Linked DNA regions of Homo sapiens. The protein of the gene in region 2 interacts with the protein of the main gene of each other region in a pairwise test. Each region holds a gene or a part of one and is shown on either strand. Other genes may lie near its edges.

What was found. Proteins that work in one complex are often made in the same cells at the same time.
Region 1: the proteins of GPHN (region 2) and SPATS1 interact in a two-hybrid assay, tested with the Homo sapiens proteins (one large-scale study listed by BioGRID and IntAct).

The regions. Positions count from the first base shown.
Region 1 is NC_000006.12:44,341,344-44,345,449, reverse strand, and holds the start of SPATS1 (spermatogenesis-associated serine-rich protein 1), read right to left. Parts: upstream 2,801-4,106; 5' UTR 2,682-2,800; intron 2,355-2,681; coding exon 2,216-2,354; intron 1-2,215.
Region 2 is NC_000014.9:67,176,147-67,179,224, forward strand, and holds part of GPHN (gephyrin), read left to right. Parts: intron 1-3,078. UniProt on the Homo sapiens protein: Microtubule-associated protein involved in membrane protein-cytoskeleton interactions. It is thought to anchor the inhibitory glycine receptor (GLYR) to subsynaptic microtubules.

The DNA.
Region 1 (4,106 bases), on a different chromosome or scaffold from region 2:
CCTAAGCAGCGAGCAGTGAAACACACCTAAAACTTTAGCACACTTCCTTGCTTGCTTGAAAAGTTTTGTGGCAGCAGCACTCTAGAAAGTGGCCTGTGGCCACTATAATGGGGAAAGCTTGTCTGATGGACAAGGATGGGAAGAGCAATCTCTTGCTAAACTGGCAAACAGCACACTCTCTAGATCAAGCTGACTACGGCATCTTCCTGAGAGTAACTCAACCTCAAACTTGAGCTGGAGACACTTAAACATGTTCTCAAGATGCCTCCCCGCCCCTCCCCTGGTAAAAGAAGATTAGCTGGAAGAGAAGCTGGAATTGCAAGCCTGAACACTTACTAATACTGACGCTAATACTAATACTGATGCTCCCACTGCATAGAGTACCATCCAGCTACTCTGAGCAAGTCAATTACTTCTCCACGCCCAGCTCCCAGTGGCTGCCCTCTCCCCCATCTAGCTCAGAAGGCTGTGGGGAGACAAACACACTAAGGAGATACACCCTGCTTGAAAGTTTCACCATTTATCATGAAAATTGTTATTCAAGCGCAATAAATGTCAAGTAAGCCAGAAGTCAGAAAATTCTAACAAGTTTCTAAAACACTGCAAAATTAAGAAGAAATGATGTAATTAAAGGCCAAGAGAAGGTTCTGGTAACCAGAAAGGAATTCAAGGGAAAAAAGAGAATTTGGAAGAAAGTCTGTTTCTTTATTGCCATCTGTGGAATTCAGGATAATTATTTCCATTTTTTTAGGCAGGAATAACACCTTACATAACCAAAGCACTTTCATATGTTTGTCATCTCAGCTGATTGTCATAATAGCTCTGTCTGGCAGGGAGAAAAATAATACATCAAGCCATGTTTGTTTAACATGGATACTCATTTAACCAAACACTATTTCCCACCCCTGCTTATCTGCTTCACAAGGGGCCTAAGGATCAAGGACAGAAGTTTTTAACCCGTTTTTTGATTCTATCCTCTCCCCCATGAGCAGTAATGAAAGCAATCGGTTCTCTGATGGAAAAATGCACACACACACACACACACACACACACACACACGTATCTTCAATTGGTTTGTGGAGCCCCTTCCTTGCTGAAATCCATAGACTCCATGTTAAGCTAAACTCAGATGTATTCTCCTGAATAGACTCACCTACACAGCAGGAAAGGACACCATGGGTCTTTCATTAATGTGGTCTGGGACCTGGTACCCTTCTGCTACCCCTAACTCGAAAACATGGATCCTCCCTAGGACATCCTTAAAACAGCAGCTTCTTCCTTTACCCCAAACTGGAAACTGCAGGAAGGTCTGGAGCTTAAAGTTAGAATCCCAGAACCCTTTTCTCCTTGCTGTTGCAGACACACTTGGACAATTAATAGCTCTAACTCCTCCAGCTCCTCCTTCTCTACGGTCCTAGCTTATATTAATAGCTGGGTGGAATGAGTTGTACCTCCCTCCTTTCTCCCCACTGTGAAGGAGAATGAGGAGATCACACACCCAGAATACAGAAGACCAGGGAGAAAGCTAAGATCTGATCCCGCAAAGTCTGGATATTTCACAACCCCTTTTTGCAGCACTCAGGCCACTCACCCATAACAGGTAAATGAGAACTTGAGCGCAGGCGCACTCTGAGCTTTTCTGGGAGACTGTGGCTGTTCAGCGCCATGACACTGTTCTCCAAAGGCAAACGTGCCCCCAAATACCCTCCTCGGCCTTAACCAATTATGGAGCTACCAGCCATTATTTAATTTTTAGAGTGTTCATAATTCTCACCTGAACTGTCCCATCCAATAAACAATGACACAAACCTACTAATATCTGAGCAAAGGAAAGATGAAAGGACACAGGCTCGAAAGTATGGCAGACTCATGTCAAATCCCAGGCTCATGTCAAATCCCAGGCTCACCTTTTATTAACCCAAGCACTGGGCAGGTCAAATCTCTGGCTCCCTTTACTCATAGGTAATATACTTCTCCACTGCTGTGAGATCCAGTGAGGTAATTTATGAGACTCTCTGCTTTGGTGGTGCTCTCTGCCTAATCAAATCTTGGGTTAGCACAAACATAAGCTACTATTCAAGCAGCTCTTTTTACATGCCCCCAAACTAGCTTCCTTCTAAACTTCAAATGGTGCCCCCCACCTGCCCCCGCCCCCGGGTGTAGTATACTTGGATGTGGCCACCAACTCCACAGCCTGGATTTCTTAGAACTCAACTGTAGGTCCTCTCCACCTCGGTCATGCCAGAGTCCCTTTTTTCTGGAACCTTCTCCAGCTGTCTGCCGCAGGTCGTGCTTGAGATGGAGGGGAGACGGCAGCCCCGTGGACTGTTTCCAGTGAGCATGGATGGACTCATCTGTGCCCATGATGATTTTAAATATTAGAAGCAACCCAGAGACAAAGAAAGTCCCTCGTAAGAAAGGTATCAGTCAAAACAAACAAATTCCACAAGCCACCGAAAGTCAGGAGGGCAGGACTGGCCTCTAAACGGGAGCCTTACTCCCTCCACCTGGGCGTTTCGTGGTTTGGAAGCCCTGGGAGCCCCAGCGAGTCCGCCCCCAGCCCGAACCAGGCTCGCTGCAGCCCCCATCCAGCTCAAGGTGCTCCTTCTTTTCCACCTCGGGGTCTTCCCACCCCCTTCCCCAGGGGAGGCCCGGGTCTGTGCTCAGAGGCCTCCACGGACCAACGAACCAACTGGCAACTGAACTGCCGAACGCACGCCGCACGCCGAGGCCTGAGAACCGAGAGCCTAGGGCAAAAGGGACACCGCAGCCGCCTGCTTCTCCCACAGAGGCGCGTTCCGGGGTTGCCGGGACACCGGCTCCAGTAACGCGGCGCGCAGCGTCCTGCCTGGCTCGGCTGCCGGCCCCCCTGTCTGTCACCCCCCGGCTCTCTGGCCATTGGTACAGGATGGAGGCTCCTGAGAGGTACGGAGCAAGGAGCTCCAGCCATGGCCCGGCGTCACAGGCAAGGACCGCTGCAAAAGCCACTTTGTGATTTTGGACTTTTTTTTTTTTTTTAAGAGTTGTGGTTCTTTTCCAGGCAATTTTCATTATTAGAACTGTAGGCTCTGGTAGCAGTGAAAGATGCGCCCTCCACAAAGCTTGCAGATGCCTGGTTATAATTGGCGTTGATTAGACAGGATCCACCTACCACTTACAGAGCGCCTTTTCTGGGCCAGGCGCCCTGGTGGATATTATCTTCCTTAAACAGCCAGCTGCGTTTTTCAAAATAGAAAACCAAATTTTAGCAAAGGCTTGCGCAAGGTCACCCAGAAAACAGATTCATTTCTAAGTTTCCTCATTCCAAATCCACCACTCTTTCCATCATATTGACTTAAATTTGTCTTCCTCATCCTTTCCAGTATCTAATAAATCTTGCATAGAAAGCTTTTCTCCAAGTCTAGTTTAAGTCCCTAAATTCGTGTTTAGACCAAGTTTTCCCTTCTTTTGTTACTGATTATAAGAGAAATAAATGGTCATTATAGAAATATTGGAAAATATGGAAAAGTATTATTAATATCCATGATCTCACCATACAGAAGTTAAATACTTTTTTCCTGGATAGCTATTGCTATATAACAAATCACCCTCAAACTCTGTTGTTTTAAACAACAACATTCATTTTTAATTTCTGATCCTGGTCGTTGGCTAGGCTAAGCTAGGCTGTTCATGCTTGGGGTCTCTCACAGGGTCTCAGTCAGAGGTCACAGAGGAGCTTCCTCACTCATGTGTCTGGTGATTGATGCTGGTTGTCAGTTGAGGTCAGCAGGGTTAGCGCCAGTTCACCCATGTGTGGCGTTTCCATGTGCTTTCTCACACCAGTGTCTGAGTTTCCAACGTGAGCATCCCAGGAGGACCAGGCAGAAGTTGTATTGCCTCCATAGTCACAAATGCATGGAGAGGGAACTTAGATCACACCTCTCCATCATGGTCATACTGTATGAAGAGCACAGGGGACAGGGGATCTTGTGGCCCTCCTAGAAAATACAATCTCCCCTACTGATATTTAGGGGTTATTCCTTGTCCTTTTTCTATGCACATGTATGTCATATACCCCTAGTGATTTACACCCCTGCTGATATTTAGGGGCTCCTTCCTCTCTACCC
Region 2 (3,078 bases):
CTTGCACCGGTTTTCAAAGGGAATGCTTCCAGTTTTTGCCCACTCAGTATGATATTGGCTGTGGGTTTGTCATAAATAGCTCCTATTATTTTGAGATACATTCCATCAATACCTAGTTTATTGAGAGTTTTTAGCATGAAGGGCTGTTGAGTTTTGTCGAAGGCCTTTTCTGCATGTATTGAGATAATCATGTGGTTTTTGTCGTTGGTTCTGTTTATGTGATGGATTACGTCTATTGATTTGCATATGTTGAACCAGCCTTGCATCCCAGGGATGAAGCCCACTTGATCGTGGTGGATAAGCTTTTAGATGTGCTGCTGGATTCGGCTTGCCAGTATTTTATTGAGGATTTTTGCATCAATGTTCATCAGGATATTGGCCTAAAATTCTCTTTTTTTGTTGTGTCTCTGCCAGGCTTTGGTATCAGGATGATGCTGGCCTCATAAAATGAGTTAGGGAGGATTACCTCTTTTTCTGTTCCTTGGAATAGTTTCAGAAGGAATGGTACCAGCTCCTCTTTGTACTTCTCATAGAATTCGGCTGTGAGTCCTTCTGGTCCTGGACTTTTTTTGGTTGGTAGGCTATTAATTATTGCCCCAATTTCAAAGTCTGTTACTGGTCTATTCAGAGATTCGACTTCTTCCTGGTTTAGTCTTGGGAGGGTGTATGTGTCCAGGAATTTATCCATTTCTTCTACATTTTCTAGTTTATTTGCATAGAGGTATTTATAGTATTCTCTGATGGTAGTTTGTATTTCTGTGGGATCAGTGGTGATATCCCCTTTATCATTTTTTATTGCATCTGTTTGATTCTTCTCTCTTTTCTTCTTTGTTAGTCTTGCTAAGAGTCTATCTATTTTGTTGACCTTTTCAAAAAACCAGCTCCTGGATTCACTGATTTTTTTGAAGGGTTTTTTGTGTCTCTATCTCCATCAGTTCTGCTCTGATCTTAGTTATTTCTTGCCTTCTTCTAGCTTTTGAATTTATTTCCTCTTACTCCTCTAGTTCTTTAAACTGTGATGTTAGGATGTCGATTTTAGATCTTTCCTGCTTTTTCTTGTGGGCATTTAGTGCTATAAATTTCCCTCTACACATTGCTTTAAACGTGTCCCAAAGATTCTGGTATGTCGTGTCTTTGTTCTCATTGGTTTCAAAGAACATCTTTATTTCTGCCTTCATTTCATTATTTACCCAGTAGTCATTCAGGAGCAGGTTGTTCAGTTTCCATGTAGTTGTGTGGTTTTGAGTAAGTTTCTTAATCCTGAGTTCTAATTTGATTGCACTGTGATCTGAGAGACAGTTTGTTGTGATTTCTGTTCTTTTGCATTTGCTGAGGAGTGTTTTACTTCCAATTATGTGGTCAATTTTAGAATCAGTGCGATGTGTTGCTGAGAAGAATGTACATTCTGTTGATTTGGGGTGGAGAGTTCTGTAGATGTCTATTAGGTCTGCTTGGTCCAAAGCTGAGTTCAAGTCCTGGATATCCTTGTTACTTTTCTGTCTTGTTGATCTGTCTAATATTGACAGTGGGGTGTTAAAGTCTCCCATTATTATTGTGTGGGAGTCTAAGTCTCTTTGTAGGTCTCTAAGAGCTTGCTTTATGAATCTGGGGGCTCCTGTATTGGGTGCATATATATTTAGGATAGTTAGCTCTTCTTGTTGAATTGATCCCTTTACCATTAAGTAATGGCCTTCTTTGTCTCTTTTGATCCTTGTTGGTTATCAGAGACTAGGATTGCAACCCCTGCTGTTTTTTGCTTTCCATTTGCTTGTTAGATCTTCCTCCAAATGTTTATTTTGAGCCTATTTGTGTCTTTGCATGTGAGATGGGTCTCCTGAATACAGCACACCGATGGGTCTTGACTGTCCAATTTGCCAGTCTGTATCTTTTAATTGGGGCATTTAGCCCATTTATATTTAAGGTTAATATTGTTATGTGTGAATTTGATCCTGTCATTATGATGCTAGCTGGTTATTTTGCCCATTAGTTGATGCAGTTTCCTCATAGCATCAATGATCTTTACAATTTGGCATATTTTTGCAGTGGCAGGTACCAATTATTCCTTTCCATGTTTAGTGCTTCCTTCAGGAGTTCTTGTAAGGCAGGCCTGGTGATGACAAGGCTCCCAGCATTTGCTTGTCTGTAAAGGATTTTATTTCTCCTTCATTTATGAAGCTTAGTTTGGCTGGATATGAAATTCTGGGTTGAAAATTCTTTTCTTTAAGAATGTTGATTATTGGCCCCCACTGTCTCCTGGCTTGTAGGGTTTCTGCTGAGAGATCCACTGTTATTTTGATGGGCTTCCCTTTGTGGGTAATCCGACCTTTCTCTCTGGCTGCCTTTAACATTTTTTCCTCCATTTCAACCTTGGTGAATCTGACGATTATGTGCCTTGGGGTTGCTCTTCTGGAGGAATATCCTTGTGGTGTTCTCTGTATTTCCTGAATTTGAATCAACAAATATTTTTATCATCAGAGTCCAGAAGAAGAAGAGAAGGGAAAGAGGATAGGAAATTTATTTAATGAAATACTAGCTGAAAAACTTCCCAAATCTGTTGAGAGATATAGACATCCAGATCCAGGAAGTTCAAAGGTCTCCAAATGTATTCAACCCAAAAGATCCTTCCCAATTTGTCAAAAGTTAAAGACAAAGAATTATAATAACAGCAAAAGAAAAGCATCAAGTCACATACAAGGAAGTCCACATTAGACTAGCAGTAGATTTATCTGCAGAAACCTTAAGGCCAGAAGGGAAGGGAATGATGTATGTAAAGTGCTGAAAGAAAAAAAAAATGCCAACCAGAAATACTATATGCAGCAAAGCTATCCTTCAGGAATGAGGGAGAAATAAAGCCTTTCCCAGACAGACAAAAGCTGAACTCCAGCTTCTTAGCCTTCTTTTCTCTTTTCACCAGAGCAACCCAACCCCTAGACTTCCTGTATTAAGAATATAAGGTGGCCAGGCATGGTGGCTCATGCCTATGATTCCAGCACTCTGGGAGGCCCAGGTGGCAGGATCGCTTGAGCCCAGGAGTTCAAGACCAGCCTGAGCAACATAGCAAGATGCCATCTCTAAAAA